Regions from separate parts of the Homo sapiens genome. Here region 2 is linked to region 1. Evidence: fine-mapped expression QTL. A gene starts in region 1. The other region holds a variant in brackets. All regions are shown on one strand. Distances are between the middles of the regions. Region 1 holds the start of SMIM1 (small integral membrane protein 1 (Vel blood group)). Region 2 holds the start of CEP104 (centrosomal protein 104).

Region 1 (11,876 bases):
CGAGTCACTGCAGCCTGTGTCTCCTGGGTTCAAGCGATTCTCCTGCCTCAGCCTCCCAAGTAGCTGGGACTACAGGTGTGTGCCACTAAGCTCAGCTAATTTTTGTATTTTTAGTAGAGACGGGGTTTCACCATTTTGACCAGGATGGTCTTGATCTCTTGACCTCATGATCTGTCCACCTCTGCCCCTCAAAGTGCTGGGATTACGTGATCCACCCGCCTCAGCCTCCCAAAGTGCTGGGATTACAGGCGTGAGCTGTGCCTGGCCCACCCCAGCATTTTTTAAGATGTATGTATTCGTTGTTCTGTTTTTCCAGATGATTCTGTCGTAAAGTGATGCTATGTTGTCGTTACAACATCAAAGTGATTTTACGGTTTTTGATGGGATTATTCAAGTGTCAGAATTAACTGTTCAAAATGTTCTGAATCATGTAGATACATGGCAGGTAACTGTTTATGGGAGAAAAGTACAGTGCTGTTACGTGGCACTGTACAGTCATGTGCCACGTAACAGCGTCTGGGTCAGTGACGGACACTTACCTGACAGCGGATCCACAATATTCTCGTGCAGTGTGTTTGGAATCCTGGTCTGGGCTCTCGTCGTTGGCCTTGTAGATCAAGTAGGGGAAGTGAGTGATGTTCAGTCATGCTGCTGGGACACTTGGTTTTCCAGATGAAAACACATAAATAAAACTACATGCACCATCGAGGCTTGTGTAAAGACTCTGTGATCACACAGCAGCGGCTAAGCACACGTTTCTCATGTGTCACTGAGCGACACGTGACTGTCACTGGTTCGGAGACCCGAAAACTTGGGAAGCCAACCGATGTGCGTTTCCTTGAACGGCACGGTCACTTTCTATGACGCAGCATCTTGTAAAACCATATCATGCCAGGATGCAGCTTGGCATGTGCAAGGGCGTTGGGTTCTCCAGCTGGCAGTGATCATAATCTTGGGGGGAAAAGTTTTAATGTGACCTTAGAATTGGCAGAATTGCGTCTCTTCATACTGCTGTTGGATTGCTTTGTGGGGGTGGAGATGTGGAGACCCCTTCAGGCAAGCAGCCTGTAGGCTGAAGGCAGTGGCAGCACCTCACCCTGGCTCAGCGGGGCCAAGCGGAGGAGAGCGGCATCGGTGGGGTTTCCATCGTGTGCACGCTGGTGCTGCAGTGACAGGCAGGTGGAGCCCCAGGAGTGGACCAGACGCCTCTGCTTGGGAAGCATCGGCAGTCCTCAGCCAGCCGAGGGACAGATGGTAGCAAAAGCTGGAGGATGCTTAGGTTTTTGAGCCAAAAATCTTCATTTATGCGCCAGAAAGGTGGGTCCTGGGCGCCTTCTGTTGTAGACGTTTCCGTTGTGAATGTCCAGGTCAGACCCCCACGTCCATGTGTCTTCGTGTATGTCCAGGCACCACATGTGCGTGCACACCACTCCCGGGAGTCAGTGTGCTTGGCTCATGAGGACACGGCCAGCCACCGCGATGATTTTACAGACCCCACTGCCTTACGATCTGGGTGCCATGTGAGAAGCAGACTCATCAGCTTTATCGAATGACACCATTTGTTCTCTGTTCAGTGTCTCGATTTCTGTGTCTGTAGAAATGACTGGTGATTTTGGGAAGCATCTGCAAGAGCCCCACAGCCCACACACCTTTAGTTGTCAACCTGAGAGGCCCGGGGCCCTGTGCAGTGGGCAGACTAACAGCTGGGTGGCTCTTCAGAGCCTTGCAGGACATGGGCCAGGCTGCCTTGAGACCTGGACCCACTTGTCTGGTCACCGCCAGGCCTTCCCGTCTCGCCCACTGTGGGAGGGAGGGGACTCCAGACAGGACGAGGCCCACACACTCAGTGCCAGCTGGACTGCCGTGGGTGTGTCAGATGACTGCCTTGCCTTGTGTCCTCCCAAAACCTGATTCCTGCTGCTCTGGGCAGTCAAGGCAGATGCCACAGTTGGCCAGGGGCCTGCCCTGCTGGAGGCTTGAGGCGGCACGGGGGCTTCCCCAGGCCAGGACTCTGCTGGAGTTCTGGGGCTGGGGACCCCAGACAGTTGCTCTGAGAGGTGATTTGGGGCTGCCATGGCAGAGGCTGCCCTTTCTCTGCATGGCCCGGCCCAGCCCGGGAAGGAGGAAGGGAGGAAGGGAGGGATGCTGGAGCTGCCATCTTGGCTCCCGGGGACTTGGTGTCCATGCTGTAACACATCTGTCACTGCGTGGGTGTGGATGAGGCTGCCACATGCTGTGCCCTTTCCTGATGCAGCTTGTGATGCGTGAGATGCTGGAAATGTATTTAACTCGCAGCACAGGTGTCTCTGATGTTTTCTTCACCCCACCCCACCCCCCGACTCACTAATAAAAACAGCTCCGCACCTGGCCCAGCAGATCCTTTCCCACCGGCACTGCCAGAGGTTGTTGCTCGAAGTGTCACAAAGCTCACTCTAGCCCAGTGGTGGCTTCTATGTGGGGAGGCTGAGGGCCTCCTGTCCCCACCCAGATCTTGCCAGCAGGGAGCAAGAGGCACCTGCCACTGTCATGGGGAAGCTGGTGCCCTTGACCAGGGGTCCTGGGAACTGGCCTCACCCTGCTGGGCCCCTGCCTGGAGCACAAGGTGGACCAGAGGTGTCGGGCTGCCTGGATACCCCAGGTGCACAGTCAGAGGAGCCCAGGCCCCAGACGCATCCACAGCAGATCCTCCTGTTCGTGAGTCTCTGGGAGGGTAGGCCAGGCGGCCACTCAGCAGGGTCCTGTCCCATCCTCTCCCCAACCCTCCCAGAGCTGTAAGGACACTGCTCAGCTCAGCCTAGGTCCATGACCCTGGGGGTACTGGGGCTGGAGCTGCTGTCTCCACCATGGTCACTTAGGGGACAAGTGGTGTGCCCGAGAGGCGGCTGTGGGTTACTTGAGTGCCTGGCCCAATGAGCACCCGTGGGTGTCTGCCTGTAGCCTCCCCTGCTGGGGCTGGCAGGGCTGCTGGTGGAGCCCCTGGCTGAAGATGCTGGGCCCCTGCCAGGGCGGACCCAGATGCAGCCAGACAGATCCAGGGCAGACCCGACATGCGCCTGTGCCATCTGATGCCAGCCCCTGACAGGTGGGAAGGAGCATTTGTGGGGGTGCGTGGGCATCACTGGCATGCGGGACCCGTGGCAGAAGCACCAGGGCCACTTCCCCTCTGACTGTAGAACTGGGACAGCTCCCATCCCCATCCTGTGCCCTCGCCTGTCTCCTGGGCCGCACCAGTTCTTGGGGAGGCCCAGCCCCAGGACCCCCAGGTCGGAGTGCTGCCTTCTGGGGCCCATGCAGCCAAACTGCTGGGCCCAGCGGCCTCTGCCACTTCCTTACAGCAGCCCCAAGGCAGTGCTGTCCTGTGAAGCTGGGCTTCAGGGAGGGTACCAGCTGGCTACTCCTTTCCCTCCTTGGGAGTGGCAGGTCAGAGGTAGGGATCTCTTTTTGAAGATCCAGGCTGTCATGGGGCTGGGGCAGGCAGCAGCCCACCCAACAACAGGCTCCCAGGAAAGCATCATTGCTTCAGACCGCAGCCCAGGACAGGCCCTTGGGCTCCCTCCTTGGGTTTGGAGCCAGGAGCCTTGGGGCAGTGTGCAATCAGCCATGCAGCTCCACCTGCCACCGGCTGGCCCAGGCAGATCTCAAGTGAGCCTGCTCGCCCCAAAGGCGGATGATGTGGAGTCTGCCTCCCTACCAAGACTGGCGCAGCCCCTCCTGTTTACCTGACTTGATGCTTTCGGCGGGACCTGGCCTGGGGCAGGCGCAGCCTCAGCCCTCCAATAACCTCATCTGGCCCTGTGGCCTCCCTTCTCTGTGCCCGTGAGGATAGTGGCTGCCCGTGTCTCCCACCCCCAGCCCTGGGGTGAGGACCCCTTCCCTAAGGGGATGTTTCTGGCAAGGCTTTTTGGGATCTTTTGTGGTAGGTGAGGGCCAAACACAAGACCCAGGAAAGCACCTACCAAGAGAATGGAGGTTGGGACCGGGGGCTGGGACTGGAGGCCAGGATCGGGGTGGGGGGAATGGGACCGAAGTCCCTGGGACACAGCTGAGGTCCAGCCACATCCGGGTCCCCAGGCCTGCCGGCTGTCCTCGCCAGAGGGCCCAATTGGTAGGGGTGCATTCCTAGAGCCACATGGGAGGGGGGCCTGCCCCGGGGAAACAAGCCCTTCCCACAGCCTTCCTGGATGTCACGCCTGGCCAGGTAACTATGGCAAGGGCTGTCATCCACCGTTCATTCAACAGACACTTAATGCCTCTGTACACAGGCTCTTGGCCCACAAGGAGTACTTGGAGGGACCAGGCCCATCCCTGGGGAGGGAGGGTAGACCCGGGTCCTCCCTGGCAGCCGCCGGCCCCAAGAGGGACACACCCAGCCTCTGCGCGTGGTGGGCTGCCTAGGAAGAACTGTGCCCACTTACTAAGGAAGATATGGTGCATCTGAGACAAGGGCGGGGGACACATAGCCACCCTTACAAAACCAGGAGTCAGAAAGGCCCAGAGAGGACAGGGGCCTGCCCAGGGCCACACAGCTCTGCACACTGCTCCCACGGAGGAAAGCAGCCGGGAGGATCCCACCCCGGGGGGCTGCCAGGGAGGTGGGCTCGGTTTGTCCGCTGAAGGAACCCCTCATCCTGGCCTTCACAAGGGAAGGGGCTGGGCCCTGGGAGAGAGGAGGCTGTAGCTGGGGGCTCCAGGCCGCAGGGCCCAGCCTGGGTGTGTCCTGCAGCTCCTGCTGAGGCTGGGCCCAGGCCTCCCAGCCACGTGTGCCCAGCTGTTTGTAGGTCCTTTGAAGGGCTGTGTGCCAGGTGTTTGTGCGCCCCCGTGTGGGGCCGATGACAGCTGTGCACCTGGTGTCTTCGTGTGCCTGGCTGCCAGCGCGTGTGCCCTGTGCGCTGTGTGTGCCGCAGGGTCCGTGTCTGTGGGGGGGTCCATGTGTACAAGGGGTGTGTCTCCAGGCCTGTGCTCTCACGTGTGCGGCCAGCCCCCCGCGTGCATGCGGGGCAGCATTTATTTGCACTTGTGCACATAGTAGCCTGTGAGGTAGCCCAGGATGAAGATGATCCAGAAGAGGGCCACGCCGCCCAGCACCTTCATGGCGATGCCCAGCTTGCCCGTGCACAGCCTCTGGGAGATCCTGGGGTGAGAACCAACTGGAGGTGAGCCCCAGGCCAGGGCCGCATGAGGGGCCCCCTAAGTGGACTGTGGCCGTTGGTCTGGGTCAGGGGGAGGGGCCTGGGCGCTCTGCTGGAGTCAAGAGGAAGCTCTCCCCGCCCACAGCCAACCAGAGGGAAGGCCAAAGGCTGCGGTTTGCTGAGCTGCTGGACCGTGGGCTCCCAGCCAGGATGGGGTGGAGGGTGATGGGGCCGGTAGCAGGGGTTAGGGCAGGCGTCTCTGGAGGGAGACACCAGCCTGCTATGGCTGGCAGGCTGCCCTCAGGCCCCTCACCTGCGGCAGCGTGAGGCCTCTTCTGTGCTGGACACAGCCCCTAGGCTGACTCCGTCCCTGCTGCCGTCCTCCCACCTACTATAGTGGACGTGGCTCTCCTGGGGCTGCATGCTGTGGGGCTGCAGCGGGAGGGGCGGGGCCTTCTCGGTGGGGAGATCAAGACAGGTGGCCAGGCTGTGGCTTCACTGTAAAACAAGCGGATGGAGGGCGGCAGTCAAGACCCCCTCTGAGGCTGCTGTTAGGAGAGGGGCACTAAGGGTCGGGGGCTGACTCCCTCACCGGGTCTGTCGCCTGACTTAACAGGTGACCTAGACACAAAGTGGTAGAGTCATTTGCCCAGGGTCAGGCCGGGAGGATGGGACCAAGCGAGAATTCCATCTCAGGCCAAGCCCTGACCTCAGGCATGTGGGAGGCCAGTGTTTCCTTCCAGCACACTCCAGGAGCCTCCCTTCCCCGGTGCTTTTATCAGGGAGCCTGCACAGCCTGCCACCCTCAAGAGACGAGGACATTGTGGCCCAATCTAGGCTGCAGCCCCTGATAACTGTCCCCCTCCTTAACCCTGCCCGATAAGGCGCCTTCTGGCCTCTGGGGAGGCTGGCCAGGGGAGGGGGGGGTGGGGCAGGGCAGCAGGTCCGGGGCAGCGGCTGGTACAGCTAGACCGGTCCCTGTCTGGGGAGGATGCGTGGCTGGCCCCAGGCAGTGGCAGCAGCTGTGTCCTCAGCCTGTGTGGGTTGCAGCCCCTCCCCCACCCACACCTCTAGGAGGGCTGGGGCTTGGGGGGCATGATGCACTGAGCACGGGGCCGGGGTGGATTCAAGGCCTTGGGGAGGCCCTACAGAGACAGGAGGGTCGTAGGGCTGGGTGGCTGCCCAGAGCAGGAGGGGCCCGGCCCCAAGGCCAGCTCCCTGCTGGGCTCCAACTCCTGCAGACCTGGGACTCATCTTTGCATCTCGGCACTCAGCTCGGTGCCTGGCAGCCCAAGTGCCCAGAGGGGCGAGGAGACCACGGGGACTGAGCAGGAACTCCAAGCACTAGCACAGCTGCCCGGCCGGCCTGAGCCAGCCCGGACTCTAAGCACCTCCTTTACCCTCTGGCCTCTGTTTCGACCTCCTATTTACCTAAGGGGGTGTGGGGGTGGAGGAGTTGGAGGGGGCACGAGAAGTTGACAACCCACCCAGGCTGTGGGACTGGGGTCAGCTCTCTGGTCTGCTGGGCCCCCAGTGTCCCCTCTCAGCATCTGGCCCCCAGGAGTGGGGTCCTCGGGCAGGCAATGGCAGGCCCCTCACTTCTAGGAGCTGAGGCTTTGCTGGGCCCCCTCCAGCGGGGAAGGCTGACCTTCCTCCCAGGTCATCGGCACAGAGGCCTAAAGGCACAGCAGCCACTCCCCTGCAAGAAGCCAGCTCAGAAACTCAGGCCCCAGGCAGTTCTGAGACTCCCGGCACTTCCATGTCTGCCTTCCCCCAAAGCCCAGAGAGGCAGAAGGAGCTGTCTCAAAGCCATAAAGTGTGCCTTCGGTGGGAGCCCTGGCTCAGTGCAGCCTGGCACTCAGGCCCGGAGAGGCCCAGCCTCTACTGGAGTATGGGTGCTGTTTTCCCGGAGCATGTGGAGCGGTCAGCTGCCTACCCGAGGTTCACGCCCTCTTGCCTGGTGTGCAGAATCCCATTCTGGTCCCAGCAGCAATGTGCCAGCCCCAGGTAACAGCCATGACCCGGGTAAGACAAGCTTAATACCACCACCCCTGCTTTCCCAAGTCACCCAGCTGGGGTCCAGGAGCCAGGGTGCAGCAGGGGATGGGAGAGTTTGCTTCTGTGAAAGCAGCAGCAGCCACCTCCTTCTTCCAGACTCGACGTGATGGCTGGAGCTGCTGGAGCTGCAGCAGCCGCCTTGCAACCCGACATCCACGCAGCATTAGTCTCGGGAGTGCTGAGGCTCCAAGTCCACAGCAGCAGCCCACCATGGGCCTCCCGGTGGGAGGGGTCAAGCCCAGTGTGTTCAACTCTGGGATCATGGGTTCCTGTCTTGCTGACGTAGAACACGTTGTTCCCAAGTCACCCCGGTGCACAGCCACCAGAGCCGGCCCTTGAGGCTGGCCTCCCTCACTTGCTCAGTAAACGTCTCTCCACACTCATGTGATGGTCACAGGTGTGGCGGCAGGAACCCATCAGGGACTCCCCTCCAGGCCCTGGGAGGCTCCCGGATCCTGGCACCTCCTGGGGGCTTGTGAGTGCAGGAAGGCCCTAGGTACACAGGCGCCCCTCCATAGACCTCTTCACCCCACAGCGCCTCAGGGCCCCACACTTACCCGGAGAACCTTGCCTGAGGGCTGGGGCCTCTGGGCCAGGTTGCGGTCAGGGCCTGGCCAGCGGCCCGCACCTCCCAGCGGGGCAGGTCGTGGGCTGAGGTGCGGCAGACGCCTCGAGCCTAAAAAAATAAAGGTGACCGGAGAAGCCGATCTTGCTAAGGGCCGGGAAGGGAAAGTGGCTGGTGTCGGGGGTCCCCAGCAGCCACAAGGAGCCGGGCAAGGAGCCGGGCGGGCAGTTCCGGCCCTGGCCCCGCACCGCGGGTTAGGCCGGTGGGGGTCAGTCCAGGGCACGCCCCCACCCCCGCCAGTTCTCAGCCAGCGAGGCCGCGCACAGTCGCACCTGCCCACTGCGGCCGCACCGGGAAGCCGCAGCCCGGACCCCGCGCGCCTCACCTGTGTCCCCGCGTCTCTGGGCTCCGCAGGGGCCGGGCCTGGGCAGGGGGCGAGGGCGGGGGCGGGGCCACGCGGGGAAGGGCTGGAGCCAGCAGCGGGGAGGTGTCTGGTCCGGAAGGTGGCGGGGCTAGAGTGGTGGGCGGGGCCATGCGGGGAAGGTCTGGGGCCAGTAGCGGGGAGGCGCCTGGTCCAGAAGGGGCCGGGGGCGGGGCGAGAGGGGGCGGGGCGAGAGGGGGGCGGGGCCATGCGGGGAAGGGCTAGGGCCGCAGCGGGGAGGCGCCTGGTCCAGAAGGGGCTGGGGGCGGGGCGAGTGGGGCCGGGAGACGCCTCGTCCGGAAGGGGCCGGGGCTCTAGGCCGCCCAGCCCCGGGGCCAGGAGGTGCAGGGGGGCCGGGCAGGGTCTGCAGAGGGCTGCACTTTCTGCCCCCAGACGGCTCGCCCTTGGGGCCTCCAGGGTCCCCGACCTCCTTCACCCCTGCTGGAGCCCCTCCGACGCCACGAGCCTCCCAGCCCCGCGGGGACCCGGCTGCAGCGCCGACGAGACTGCGGGAGGCTCTGGGCGCGTCTGGGCCTGAATGCTGGGTTCGGGGACCCGGCCGCGGGGACCGTCCTCCTCCGGGGCTTGAGGGGCGTGGCGCCCGCACGTGGCCCACGCTCGGTGCTCGCGGCGGGAAGGGAAGCAGGTGTGGGTGGGGAGCAGAGAAGGGTAATGGGGAGAGTCCCTTCCGAAGGTGTTCAGGCGCCCAGAGCCTCAGAGGCGCCGGGGAAGCGTCGGGGACCACAGACACCGTTCCCGTGCGTAAAGCTTTCCTTCCAGGAGCGGGGGGATGGGAACAGAGCCCCCCACCCTCACCATCTTCCAGAGGGGTCCTCCAGCAAGAGAGTGCCCCAGCCAGGAGAGCCCCCAGGGCAGAAGGTCACAGACCCCTTCTGCTCAGGCGTGAGGTCTGTGCTGAGTGCTGGGCGGACACCCCGGCTCAGGCCTCTGGCAGCCTGGTGCCGCAAGGGGACCTGTTAGGAGCTAGGGGCACAGGCTGGTGTGCTGACTCCCTGTGAGTGAGCTTTGGAATGGGGAGTGTCCTTGTAGCTCAAGGTCGCAGAGGAGAGTAGGCCCCCGCGTGGATCCCAGAGAAGAAAAAGGTGGGACAGTGCCAACACCGGGGTTTAATTCTGAGTCTGAGAGCAGGACGCATGGTGGGGGCGGGTGGTTCTGGAGCTGGGCCCCGGCCTCTGCTGGGCTGACCGTATTTGGGGGCCTGGCTGGGCCTACTTGGAGGTCCCCTTCTTGGATTTGCTGGTCAGGAAGGCCTCTGACTGTTGCAGGGGGGGCACTTTGACGCCTTTCTGCTTCAGCTGATTATAGTAGTCGCTTCTCTCTGAGATAATTCTCTACACAAGAAACACAGCCGTCGAGGTGGCCTTCCCAGTTCCTCACCTTGGCCTTGAGGCCGGTCTGCACAGTCCGTGCCAGCTGCCCGGGACGCCACCCTCTCCTCCTCCTCCAGAGAGGCTTGCTGCAGCAGGGGTGTGCTGGTGAATACTTACAACCGGCTCTCCAGGGGGAGAAAAAACAAACAACCCTCGGCTTTGTGGCGTTGCCAGTTTCTGTGGTGGGAATATTCCCACAGTGGCTGATTTTCAGCCACGGAAGTGAAGTCACAGAATGCGGAGCCGGGGGCAGGTGCACACCACCAGCCCGCAGAAGCCTGCACTAAGCCCCCTCTTCAGCCCTCTTAGAGTTGTGAGGAGCCCCAGACTCCTAGAGATCTTTGAGGTCGTCACATCTGTCCCTCAAGTCCCTTCTGTCCTGTACAGAGGGAATGTTGTCCCCACCTCTCTTCCATTCTCCTCTCTGGGCCGTTGCTGGTTCATGTCAGGCTATGGCAAGCAAGCAAAGGTGCTCTTCCCTGGCTACTGTGCGGTGGGAATAACTCCCTCCATCCTCTGTCTTCCCTCTTCTCTTCCTCTTTCTCTCCCCTTCCTCCTCCCCTCCCCCAGACAACAGTACCAAGGCCGCAGAGACCTCTCTCCACATTACAGCTCTGCAGGAGAGGCACTGTCCAGGGCCCCCCACTCTGCAGAGGAAGGGAACCAGGCCCCAGGAACGTGGGTGCTGGAAGGTCAGGGGCACACACTGGGGTTCAAGGGCAGCCCCAGAGGGTGAAGTGTGGGTCTTGGGAACAAAAGCAGCTCCTGGTGAGAGGTGACCCCTTCGTAGTACACAGCCCCACACAGAGCCATAGCCGGTGCCCGGCTCCCAGAGCTCTGAGTCTTACGACACCTTGCAGGTGAGCATGCGCTGTCCATCACAGAGGGAGGCATCTATGGCTCAGAAAAGTGAGTGTGTGGCCCCCAGCTGGTGGGTGGTGACCCCCTCATGCCCAGTGACCCCAAGGCCTGAATTCTCCTACACCCCTCTACTTCTCCGAGGCCCTTGCTTGGGGACCCCTGGTCAGGAAGGAGCCCAGGAGGCTGTGGCCGGGGTGGGAGGGGTCTGCACCAGGGCCCTGGATCAGTGGGTGGTGATACCAGCGGAGGGGACCAAGCTGGACAAAGCCGGGGCTGGGCTCCTGCTGTGGGAGAATCTTCGTGCCCTGAGCGGCTTGTCCCCTCTCCACAGCGCTCAGGATGGGTTGTGGCAGTTACTGCTGGTCTCTGATGCCCGTCCCCCGTTTTGCTGAGAGTAGCTAAGACTCCCGTGCCATGCCCCCACCTGCCTTAGGATGATTTGATCCCCTCTGCCTGAGCTGAGAGAAAGGAGGGTCCTGGGGTCCAAGTGAATAGGTGACACAGGTAGGATGAGAACAGAGTCCCTGGAATCTAGGCCCCCCACAACCCCCTACCACAGCTCTGGCCTGGGGGTCTGGGGCCCGGATAGAGGCAGCTGAGCTTAGGGGTATACCTGCAGGGCTTCCAGGATGTCATTGTCAGAGATCTCGTTGGCCAAGGACTTGGTCCCGGAGATGCTAAAGGTGGCCTGGATGATCTTATTCCTTAACCTCTCGAGCTGTGAGCAAAGGGACAACACTATCATTCGCCTTTACCCAAGAAGGCACCTGGCCAGTGGGCTGCACCCCCCACCACCTTATTTTTTATGTACCAGGAAGGAACAGCTCACCCTCACTTTTCATGGCTTTAGAAACTGGAAACAGGTGTCAGAGAAGTCAATGTGGATTGTCTGAGAGCTAGGAGGTGCCGGATCCAACCCCTGACCCTGTGCGGCCCAGCCCCAAAGCCCAAAGACTCTCCTACACCAGGTGGGCTTTTCTAATTGGAAAGTAAAACCTACACACACATATATATATATTTTTAAACCAACAAACCAAAATAGTACAGAAGCCGCACGTAACCCCTGGACCATCCTCCACTGCCCAGGGGAGCTGCAGTGAGCGGACTTCCTGGCCCTTGGGGACACTCTCACTTTAGGCATTTAACAGTGCGCTGCTGGTGCTTCCTCCTTTCCATGCTGACTAGGAGGTGTCTGTGCCATGGACAGCAGCGTTGAACCTGGCCCCCGCGCACAGACCCAGAAGGCGTTCTCGTCTTCTGCTGCCATGAAGATCCTTGTCTGCCTGTACACCCGCAGCCGCCTCCCCAGAGGTAGCTAATCGTGCCTCCCAGGAAGCTGCAGAGGAAACCCCTCCAATCTGCACCCCAGGAGCCTCAGACAGGAACCCCTTGAGTTATGCGGCACGCTCAGCACGAGTTCCTCGTCCAGAAACCCTGACGACGCAGAGGTG
Region 2 (11,876 bases), 87 kb before region 1:
GCCCTCAAGCCCTCCTTTCCCAAAAAGGCTACAATCTCTCAGCATCGCCTCTGATGGGCTTACAAGGCCAGGCCAAAAGGTGGAAGCAACCCAAGTGTCAGTGAATAGACAGTGTGGTATCTACACGCAGCGGAGTGAACAGACGGAGCGTGGCATGTACACGCAGTGGAGTGAATGGACAGAGTGGGGTATGTACACGCAGTGGAGTGAATAGATGGCGTGGTATGTACACGCAGTGGACTGTCATTTGGCCTTAAAAAGAAGGAAATTGGCTGAACGTGGTGGCTCACGCCTGTGATCCCAGCACTTTGGGAGGCCGAGGCGGGCGGATCACGAGGTCAGGAGATTGAGACCGTCCTGGCTAACACAGTGAAACTCCGTCTCTACTGAAAATACAAAAAAATTAGCCAGGCGTGGTGGCAGGCACCTGTAATCCCAGCTACTCGGGAGGCTGAGGCTGGAGAATGGCGTGAACCCGGGAGGTGGAGCTTGCAGTGAGCCAAGATCGCGCCACTGCACTCCAGCCTGGGCAACAGAGCAAGACTCTGTCTCAAAAAAAGAAAGAACTTTTGATATACGCTACGATATGGATGAACCTTGAGGACACTGTGCTGAGTGCAATAAGCCAGTTACACAAGGACAAATACTATGTGACTGCATTCATATGAGGTCCCTAGAGTCATCAAATCAGAGAGACAGAAACCGGAATGGTGGTGGCCAGGGGCTGGCGGAGGGGGAAGGGGGAGTGATGTAACAGGGACACGGGTTCAGCTTTGCAAGGTGGAAGGAGTTCCGGAGATGACGGTGGGGATGGCCGCATACAATGTGACTGTACCTAATGCCGATGACCTGTGCACTAAAAAAATGATTGAGAAGGTAAATTTTATGTCATATGTACTTTAGCACAATTTTTAAAATAATTATAATAGGCCAGGCGGGGTGGCTCCCGCCTGTAATCCTAGCACTTTGGGAGGCTGAGATCAGAAGTTTGAGACCAGCCTGGCCAACATGGCGAAACCTCATCTCTACTAAAAATACAAAAATTGGCAGGGCGTGGTTGCACTTGCCTGTAATCCCAGCTACTCGGGAGGCTGAGGCAGGAGAATCGCTTTAACCTGGGAGGCAGAGGGTGCAGGGAGGCAGAGGTTGCGGTGAGCCAAGATCACGCCACTGCACTCCAGCCTGGGGGACAGAGCAAGACTCCATCTCAAAACATATCTATAAAAATATAAAAAGTCCCATCCGAGGGCTGCCCTGGACTCTGGCCCCACCTGAGTCCTTGCTGGGTACCTTTCCCACGAGGCTGGGAAATGCTGGGAAATGAGCACATTTTCTTCCAAGTCCCCCACCTCAACCCACGAGGGTACAGGCCAGCCCTTCACTGGGGGCTTTTTGGAATCCAACTTCTTCTGGCACCTCAGGCTCCAAAGAAGCCTCTCCCCTGCCAGCTGCAGCCCCCACGCACCTTCAAACCACGGCGGGTCCTCAGCCCGGGTCTCGGCCGCGATGTTCTGGCTGACGTTGTGCAGGAGGTCAGCCAGCAGCCTCTGCCTCTGTGGGGCCTGCTCATCACACAGCAGCTGCTGGGCGGCCTGGATGAGCCCCACCTGTGGCTCGTGAAATGCACTGAGGAAGCGCCTGATGTCGCTCACATCTGCCACCAATGGGACAAACAAAAGGTGCCGGTCCAGCAGAAGACACATCCTGCCCCGGTCACAAGAAGAGCCTCTGACCACATCTTCCCCCATTCCCCAGGGCCTGGCAATCACCAGGACTCAGACTTGAGGTGTCCCGGGTCTTTGTCCTTGCCCTGACACCAACAGCTGGGGACCACGCACAAGGGCGGCATGAGGACAGAGGAGGGAGGGGCAGGGTGTGCTTTAGAGGACAGATGAAAGCGCACCAAGAGACGGCCGCTTTCCCATTTGGCCTCCTCCCCTCCAAACCATACGCCCCCCACTTTGGCCCTTCCTGGAGACCTTGCTTTCAGATCCTTCCGATCACTTTTCCTACTCTCTCCTGGAGCCTTTTCACAACTCCCTAAAGCAGCGAGCTCTCCGGGCAGGCTCTTAATAGGAAGTTAAAGCAAAGTCTACCCAGGACCTTAACAAAATGTTAGCAAAGAGAACTCAGTAACATGCACAAAGAAATATCACCACGGCCAAGTGGGAACGCAAGGCTGGTTCACACCTGCAAATCGATCAGTGCGATCCACCATATGAGAAAAGCCTCACGATCACATCAGTGGGTCAGAAGAAGACAGGAGGACATGCTGGGGAGTGAGGACTTGGTGGAAGTCCTTAGACCTAACATCAAAAGCACTGCGTAAAAGAGAAAATCAACACACTGAGCTTCCTCAAAACTAAAAACTCTTACTCCGCAAAAAAAAAAATGCTCTTAAGAGAATGAAAAGCCACAGGGTAAATATTTGCAAACCACATGTCTGACAAAGAACTCATGTCCAGGTATTTTGTTTGTGGGGTGAGGCGTGACTTTCAAAACTCAACAGTAAAAAAATAGATAAATAAGCCAATTAGAAAAAGGACAAGAGACAGGAAGAAACACTTCACCAAGGAGAATCTACAGATGGCAAATAAGCACATAAGAAGATATTTAGGGCTGGGCGCGGTGGCTCACGCCTGTAATCCCAGCACTTTCAGAGACCGAGGTGGGAGAATCACTTAAGGGCAGGAGTTTGAGACCAACCTGGCAACCAAGACCCCATCTCTAAAAAAAAAAGCAAGACCCCCATCTCTAAAAAAAATCATAATAATTAGCGGCACATGGGGGTGCACACCTGTAGTCCCAGTTACTTGGGAGGCTGAGGTAGGAGGATCGCTTGAGCCCAGGAGTTCAGGGTTGCAGTGAGCCATGATTGCCACTGCACTCCAACGTGGGCAACAGAGTGAGACCCTGTCTCTGTTTTTATAAAAGATATTCAGATAGTCAGCATTGTTAGCCATTAGGGAAATGCATATTAAGGGCACAACGAGACATCACCACACTGCAATCAGAATGGCTAAAATTAAAAACAGCAACAGCGCCGAAAGCTGGCGAGGCTGCACAGAAACTGCGCAGTGGAAAGGTAAGACGGCCACTCTAGCACACAACTTGGCAGTTTCTTTTCTTTATTTTAAGTAGCTTTATTGAAATATAATTCACACTCCTTATAATTCACCCATTTAAAGTGTACAATTCAGAGGCCGGGCGCGGTGGCTCACGCCTGTAATCCCAGCACTTTCGGAGGCCGAGGCAGGCAGATCACAAGGTCAGGAGATCGCGACCATCCTGGCCAACATGGTGAAACCCTGTCTCTACTAAAAATACAAAAATTAGCTGGGCGCAGTGGTGCATGCCTGTAACCCCAGCTACTCGGGAGGCTGAGGCAAGAGAATCGCTTGAACCCAGGAGGCAGAGGTTGCAGTGAGCCGAGATCGCGCCACTGTACTCCAGCCTGGGGAGAGAGCAAGACTTCATCTCAAAAAAAATAAATAAAATAAATAAAGTGTACAATACAATGGGTTTTATTATATTCCCAGAGTTGTGCAGCCACATCCACAGTCAATTTCAGAACATTTTCACCACCTCAAAAAGAAACCTCATACTCTTTAGCTACCAACCTCCCTCCCCTCTACCCTACCCCCAACCCTAAACAACCACTAATCTATTTTCCATCTCTCTAACATCCCCGTTCTGGGTATTTCCTATGAATGGAACCCTACTGTATGTGCAGGCTTCTTGACTTGGCATGGTTTCAAGGCTCGGCCATGCTGTGTTTCATTCCTCTTCATGGTGAGTACTTCCATTGTATGGATGTGCCACACTCTATTGATCCAAGTGTTCATCATTGGAGACTTAGGTGGTTTCTACCTTTTGGCTATTATGAATAAAGCTACTGTAAACGCTCACGGACGAGTTTTGGTGTGGACGTGTTTTCATTTCTCTTGGGTACATACCTAGGAGTGGAGCTGCTGGGTCACATGGCGATTCTGTGTAATTGTTGAGAAACTGCCAGACTATTTTCCACAGCAGCTGCACCGTTTTCCCTTCCCATCAATGGGGCCTGAGGGTTCCAGCCGCTCTGCATCCTCGCCCACACTGGTTGTTATCCTAGTGGGTGTGAAGTAGCATCTCACTGTGGTTTTGATTTGCAGTTCCCTGACGACTGATGATCTCAAGCACCTTTTCCTGTGCTTACGACCACTTGAATATCTTCCTTGGAGACATTTCTTTCTTTTCAGAACCTTTGCCCATGTTTAATTGGGTTATCTTTTTACTATTAAGTTATAAGGATTCTTTATATATTCTGATGCAAGTCCCGTATTAGATACATGATTGGCAACTATTTTGTCCTATTCTGTGGGCTGTCGTTCACTGCAGCCTCCACCTCCCCGGTTCAAGCAATTCTCCTGCCTCAGCCTCCTGAGTAGCTGGAATTACAGGCGCCTGCCACCACGCCCGGCTAATTTTTGTATTTTTAGTAGAGACGGGGTTTCACCATGTTGGCCAGGCTTGTCTCAACTCCTGACCTCAAGTGATCTGCCCGTCTCGGCCTCCCAAAGTGCTGGGATTACAGGCTTGAGCCACCGTGCCCGGGCCAGAGTTCTTAATGTTGATGAAGCCCAATTTATCTGTTTTTTCTTCTGCTGCTCATGTTTTTGGTGTCAAATCTAAGAATCTTTTGCCAAATCCAAGGCGATGAGGACTTATCGCTATGTTTTCTTCTAAGGGCTTTATATTTTTAACTTTTACATTTAGGTCTTTCATTTATTGTACTTTTTGTATAAGGTACCAGCTAAGAGTCCAACTTCATTCTTTTGTATGTGAATATACAGTTGTCCCAGCACTATCTGTTGAAGATACTACTCTTCCCCCTCCGTTGAATGGTCCTGGCATCCTGACCACAGATACATAGATTTCTGGGTGCTCTGTTCTATTCCATTGATCTATATATCTGTCCTTGTACCAGTGTCAGTCTTGATTACTGTGGCTTTGTACTAAGTTTTGAAATCAGAATATGTGGGTCCTCCTACTATCTTCTTTTTCACAGTCGTTTTGGCTATTCTGGGTCTCTTGCAATTCCATATGAACTGTGGATTAGAATCAGCATGTCAATTTCTACAATGAAACCAGCTGGAATTTTCATAGGGATTGTGTTGAATTTGTAGGTCAGTTTGGGGAGTCCCACCATCTTAACAATGTTAAGTTTTCCAATCCATGAACATGGGATGTTAATCCATTTATTCAAAACTTTAATTTCTTTCAACAACATTTTGCAGTTTTCAGAATATAAGTATTACAATTTTTTGTTACACTTATCCTAAGTATTTTATTCTTTTTGATGCCAGTGTAAATGGGATGATTTTCTGCTTCATTTTCAGATTGTTCGTTGGAAGTGTATTTCTATATTTGCATATGATCTTATATCCTTCAACCTTGCTAAACTTGATGATTAGTTCTAATCACTTTTTAGTGGATTCCTTAGGGTTTTCTACATACAAGTTCATATGATCTGCAAATAGAAATAGCTTCACTTCTTCCTTTCCAATCTGGATGCTTTTTATTTTTCTTGCCTAAATGTCCTGGCTAGACCCTGCAGTACCATGTTAAACAGAAGCAGCAAGAGTGGACATCCTTGTCTTCAGAAACTAAACACACACCACACAACGCAGCACTGTACTCCTGGGCATTCTCCCCAGAGGCATGAAAACCTACATCTCGCAAAAACCTGTCAAGATGGCCAGGTGCGGTGGCTCACGCCTGTAATCCCAACACTTTGGGAGGCCAAGGCGGGTAGATTGCTTGAGCCTAGGAGTTATAGGCCACCCTGGGCAACATGATGAAGCCCTGTTTCTACAGAAAATACAAAAATTAGCCAGGCATGGTGGTGCACCCCTGTAGTCCCAGCTACTCAGGGGCGGAGGTAGGAGGATCGCTTGAGCCCAGGAAGTGAAAGCTAGAGTGAGCTATGATTGCACCACTGCACTCCAGCCTGGGCGACAGGGTGAGACCCTGTCTCAAAAGAAAACAAGAAAGAAAAAAGAAAAACTTGTACATAATTGGCCAGAGCAGCTTCATTTGTAATAGTCAAAAACTGGAAACAAACAAAATATCTTTCCACAGGCGAATGGTTGAACAAACTGTGGTAAAACCAAACCATGGAATGCTACTCAGCAATGAAAAGGAACGGACTATGGATACACACAACTTACATGCATCTCGGGAGCCTTATGTGGAGTGAAAAAGGCTCATCTCAAAAGGTCACATACTTTATGATTCCACTTACCTAATATTCTTTTTTTTTTTTTTTTTGAGATGGAGTCTCAGCCTGTCACCCAGGCTAGAGTGCAATGGCACAATCTCAGCTCACTGCAACCTCCACCTGCTGGGCTCAAGCGATTCTCCTGCCTCAGCCTCCT[G/A]AGTAGCGAGATTACAAGCGCCCGCCACCATGCCCAGCTAATTTTTGTATTTTTAGTAGAGACGGGGTTTCACCATGTTGCCCAGGCTGGTCTTGAACTCCTGATCTCAGGTGATCCACCCACCTCGGCCTCCCAAAGTGCTGGGATTACAGGTGTAAGCCACCGCACCTGGCCCCTAATATTCTTTAAATGACAAAATTATAGACATGGAGAACATATCAGCAGTTGCTACGGGCTAGGGATTGCTGGTGGGCAGGGGTAGGCAGGATTATAAAGGGGAGAACCTTGAGTGATGGATGGGAGAGGGCTGTACCTTGACCCTGATGCTGGTCACAGGAATCTACATGGGGAGAAATGACAGAACAACATGCACATTGCACTAGTGTCGGTGTTCCTGTTTTATATTGTACCACGGTTGTATCTGATGTTGCCTTTGAGGGAAAGGGTAGAGGTACATTGGACCTTCCTATCTGTGCAACTTCCTGGGAATCTGTCATTATTTCTAAATAAACGGTTTAGGCCAGGCACAGTGGCTCATACCTGTAATCCCAGCACTTTAGGAGACCAAGGCAGGAGGACAGCTTGAGCCCAGGAGTGTGAGACTATCCTGGGAAACATGGCGAAACCCTATCTCTACAAAAAATACAAAACAATTAGCCAGACGTGGTAATGCATGCCTGTGGTCCCAGATACTTGGGAGGCTGAGGCAACGGGATCACTTGAAACACGGAGGTCGAGGCTACAGTGAGCAAGGTTTGTGCCACTGCACTCCAGCCTGGGCAACAAAGTTTCAAAATATAAATAAAACAAAAATATTTTGGCCAGGCACAGTGGCTCATGCCTGTAATCCCAGCACTTTGGGAAGCCAAAGTAGGAGGACTTCTTGAGCCCAGGAGTTTGAGGCCAGCCTGTGCAACAGAGGGAGACCCCATCTCAATGTTTTCATAAAAGAAAAGAAAAAAAATTTTTTTTAAGTCTAACAAGGAGGAGGACTAGCGGTCTCAGCGAAGAGAGGAGGATAAAGCGCCAGAGAAAGGAAGGACAGAGAGAGAGAGAGACAGAGACAGACAGAGAGAGCCAGAGACAGAGACAGAGGAGAGAGACAGAGACTGCGAGATGCAGGGAGAGACAGAGAGAGAGCAACGTGCTCTGCTGTCTTTCAACTATGCCCTGAAATGGGAAAGAAAGATAACATCCAAAGGTGAGGCATACCCTGAGCATACCCCTGCCCAGCCCCCACCTCCTGCAGGGGCCACCCCAGGGGGCATCACAGTGATACATTTTCCAGCTGCCTCCTCTAAAAGCACAAGGCCCAGTGGAGAAAGGGGGTTTGCAACCTTGGAGCACACACCAGAGGCGTCACCCCTCAATGCTGACAGTGGAGCCCCCAACACTGTAGCCGGGGAGGTGGCCACATGGATGTTACTCTTCGACTTCTCTCTTTTTGCCCCTTAGGCCAAGGAGCCACAGCTCCATCCCTCAGAGCACCCATGTCCTTCCTGGGCTGCCAGAAGCATCTCCTGGAGCCTGACCCCATTTGCACAACACTGGCCGACCCTCCCAGGTAAAGGCACATGATGGCATCTCCTGCCCCAGTGGCCAAAAGCTCTCTTTTACGGGAGTCAAACAAGCGCAGACCTTGGCATTCGGCTGGTTCTGAAAGGCAGGACTTTGTGTCCTGAGGCTTCAATACAGATGCCCCGAAAGAACCACCTCTCAAAGCAATTGCCCCCAAACTTGAGCCCTGAGGACAGCATCTTAGCAAACACCAACCGAGAACAATGTGAGAGCATCCCACGAACCACCACCTCGTCCTTCCAGAAGGGTGCTCAGCCCAGCAGAACAGAACAGCATCTCTTCCTGGCTCCACCTTCCCCATGAAACTGTGCAGGCCCCAACCCCAAAGCCCTCCCTCTGCTCTTGGGAATTGCTAGGACACCTCAAATGAACGCAAATAAAATTAAAAGATTTTTTGAAGAAAAAGACGACCAATTGAACAGCTGGGTTCATGAACGAGAGGACTGAGGACTCTGCCACCTAAGCGACGCTGACCAGTTCTGCCTCCAGAGGGCTTCCTCCTTGAGACCCGAGAGTTCACAGTAAGGGGGACTCTTCCCCACCCTGATGGGCACCTGGAGCTAAGCCCCCAGGACCTCGGAGAGTGCCAGCTTCCCGCCCACCTCCAAAGTCCTTGCCACTCACAGCCCTGCCAGGCCTGGCCCAAGGTGAGCAGCACCAGCTCGGCGTTGTCGGGAACACTGGGGAAGTAATCTTCCGTCAGCTCCGTGCCATCCTCGTACAGGCACAGCCGGGAACCGCGCTCAGGGAGCTGCAGGGACGGGAGAAGCAACAGGAGGAGGAAGGGTCTCAAGACGAGGGCTTTGCATCTGCAGGCCTCACAAACGACCGGAATGAGCTGTGCTTAAAGAAGCAGGCTCAGGCTGCCGCCTGTATGCCACAGTCGCTCCAACGCCCAGGCAAGGATGAGGGAGCGGGAGCAAGGGCGCCTGACTGCGGGCCGTTCTAAAATACGAAGAGTCAGGAAAAACATACATCAGGGGGTGACTGCTGGCTCTGCAGGATTCACCCTTTTTAAATGAGCTCCTGAGGGCGCTTCAAATAGAGCCTGTCTTTGACAGCGCCGCCTCCCTGCTGCCAGGAGCTGAACACCACCATCCCCAGCACACAGCCGCCAGAGCGGTGCTGGCACACGAAGGAGAACGGTTGGTTGCCTCTGTGCACAAGTGTGACCGGCACGTGGCACTGTTAATTTGTTGGAGTCCGGTTCCCTGTTACTCTGCACTGGTCAGTTTTAGGCATTTTATGGCTACTCCCACCCCACCCGCACCGACCCCGGCAATGCACACCTGGTAACCCTAGTACTGGTCTAAAAAGAAAACCAACCTAGAATAAGGTGACGATTGCAATCCCCAGCTGCGAGGGCTGGAAGGGGCCTGCAGAGCCCACCTAGCCAAGCCTTTCATGTTACTCAAGGGGAAGCTGAGGCCGGACAGGCAGAGCAGCCGTGACCCCGCGTGCCAGTACCTGGCACTCTACCCGGGTCTCCTAGCTCTGATGCAGGGCTGTCCTGCCCGAGAGGTGGGAAGAGGGAAGGGGTGATCCAGGTCGTCCCCCAACCCCCCTGCGTTCTGAAGCCACGCTCAGGAACCCCAGGCTGCGGGGGCCCGGGGTCCTAGCGGCTGAGGCGAACGAAAACTACCCGCCCCGGGCGCCGCCTGCACCCTCCGTTTTGGAAGAGGAAAAGCGGCACCTCCTATTCTCCCCACACGCCTCCCCGACGGGCCGTCCCCGCCTAGCCCAGCGGGCACCTGGAAGCGGAGACAGCCCTTGCGCAGCACCTCCTGGCAGCTCCGGCCAGCCACGCCGAACTTCCTCGGGCTGCGCAGGGCCCGCAGCTTCACGCTCTTGGGCTTCTGGAGCATTGCAGATGTCCTCAAGCCCTCTGGGTCCCACAGGCGGTGGCACCTGCTGCCCAGCTGCTCAGATCCGTCCTCGCCCTGGCCGCAGGGGTCTGCACCTGGTGAGCTCTGCAAGCTGGCACAGGCCGGGTGCCGATCCCGGAAACTACATTACCCAGAAGGCCTGGGAAAAGTGAGGCCCGACGCGGTCTTGTGCGCAGGCGTCGCCCCACGGACACCACATTACCTTACTCAGAAGGCTCAGGAAAGCAAAGGCGCGACGCCACCTGGTGTGCCCAGGTGCCGTGGCCCCGGAAACTACACAACCCTGAGGGCCAGAGTAGCGGAGCCCTCCCCTTGTGCGCAGGCGCGGCCTGGGGTGGGGCGGGGTCGCGCACGCGCAGAGGCCCTGGCCCAGGGCTGGGCTTGGTTGTCATGAGAGTGGAGGCTGCGGCCGGGGCTATGGGCAGAGGTGGCCGGGTCTGCTTCTTCCCTGTCACTGCCGCAGCAGCTTGGGGTGCAAGGCGGCCTGGGGCGGCGGAAGGGGCGCCCCCCGAGTTCCGTCTGAGGAAGCGGCGGCTGCCGAGGAAGTCCACGAGAGCCGGGTCCCGCACGCCCCTGGGGTCCGGGTGCTGAGGCGCCGCCTGGCCGCCTCCCCGGGCCGCGGCACCGCTCCGACCCAGCCGCCCTCTCCACCGGGGCCGCGGCAGCGCCAGTCGGGGCCCTTCCCTCTAAGCAGGTACCTTCCGGGCCGCTGCGGCGCCGGCCCAGGGCCGGAGTGGGGAGCGGGGCGCGGGGCGCGGGGCGCGGGCGCCGCGGGGGCGCGGTCCCCACCTGGGAGCTGGGTACGAAGCCTGGGTGCGCGGTGCAAGCGCGGACGGTGTGGAGTTAGATGCCGGCCTTGCTGTCGCCGAAGAGCCGGCGCGGCCCCGTCGTGCCGTATGCCGGGGAGCTCAGCACGGGTGCTGGGACCGCCTGCCCCGGCCGGGACGGCCCATTTAGCGTGGAATATTGTTTTCAGATCCGGCTTTTCCTCTTCTGGATGCGTAGCACATAGGGGGCCAGTTTCAGATGTGTTCTGCTGAGCAAAAGTTTGAGGAAAATTGCTCTGTCCCTATAGAGATTAAAGTCTGATGGTTGGTTGTTTTTTGTTTTGGAGTTTGTTTTGTTTTGTTTGCACTTAAGTTCAGATTTCTCTGAAGCCCTTTCAGTCGCTAAGATGACTTGATCAGAAACCCATAAGCCTTTGAGACGGTCTCGCTCTGTCGCCCAGGCTGGAGTGCAATGGCACGATCTCAGCTCACTGCAGCCTCCGCCTCCCGGGTTCAAGCGATTCTCCTGCCTCAGCCTCCCGAGTAGCCCGACTAATTTTTTTATTTTTAGTAGAGACGGGGTTTCACCATGTTGGCCAGGCTGGTCTCGAACTCCTGACCTCAAGTAATACGCCCTCCTCGGCCTCCCGAAGTGCTGGGATTACAGGCATGAGCCACCGCGCGCAGTCACACTTAAAAGTCTTCTTAAAAAGAAAATCAGAGACAAGTTTTGTTTCCTAGTCTTGTAACAAAATGGAAGTTGCTACACTGAGTTTCCGTTTAATTTATAGTTAATTGCCTTTTACCATGCCAGCACTAGGAAAAGTGTAGTGAGGGATGAGACCGCCATGGAGTCATCGCTGCCTGGGGAGAGATGTACTCTGGCATTTGTCGGGATGTCGATGGCTGCCCCTGGGACAACAGGGATCCCTCATGCCTCTGGTGAGGAAGACCAGCCAATAACTGGATGTTCAACAGAGCTTTGCTTCTTCCCAAATTGTTAATGGTGATTTTTATAGAGCCTAAAAGTGGCATCCTTCAGTGACATTCCAAGTATCTTATGTAACACTTGAAGGTTTACACAGAGGGGACCCTAGGGTACAACTGGAAGGTCTTTGGGAGGGGGTAGACTAAAAAAGGAATCCTTTTCAAATACCAGACTGAGGTAATAGCATTGCCTCCACAGTCCCTGTGCATTTCTCTTAGCTGGTTCTTAAATGCCAGTA

Evidence for each region.
Region 2: its variant is fine-mapped to the expression of SMIM1 in whole blood (INTERVAL, PIP above 0.99).

Annotation. Positions count from the first base shown.
Region 1 is chr1:3,769,050-3,780,925 of GRCh38, reverse strand. SMIM1 (small integral membrane protein 1 (Vel blood group)) reads right to left here and starts at 8,177. Exons shown (of 4, transcript NM_001288583.2): 1 at 8,138-8,177; 2 at 7,745-7,863; 3 at 5,443-5,627; 4 at 4,970-5,131. The coding sequence starts at 5,552. The coding sequence ends at 5,005. CCDC27 (coiled-coil domain containing 27) reads right to left here. Exons shown (of 12, transcript NM_152492.3): 11 at 11,039-11,143; 12 at 9,281-9,525. The coding sequence ends at 9,403. LRRC47 (leucine rich repeat containing 47) reads left to right here. Exons shown (of 7, transcript NM_020710.3): 7 at 1-2,367. RefSeq lists enhancers at 5,275-5,334, 5,250-5,765, 5,914-6,058, 6,798-7,313, 7,314-7,829 and 1 more, cis regulatory regions at 5,962, 5,954-5,970 and a silencer at 7,891-8,770.
Region 2 is chr1:3,855,590-3,867,465 of GRCh38, reverse strand. It overlaps CEP104 (centrosomal protein 104), which reads left to right and starts at 10,255. Exons shown (of 22, transcript NM_014704.4): 1 at 10,255-10,577. It overlaps DFFB (DNA fragmentation factor subunit beta), which reads right to left and starts at 9,990. Exons shown (of 7, transcript NM_004402.4): 1 at 9,749-9,990; 2 at 8,622-8,748; 3 at 1,466-1,654. The coding sequence starts at 9,862. RefSeq lists silencers at 9,109-9,158, 10,089-10,588 and an enhancer at 9,769-9,948. The variant G/A (reference allele first, on the strand shown) is at 6,420.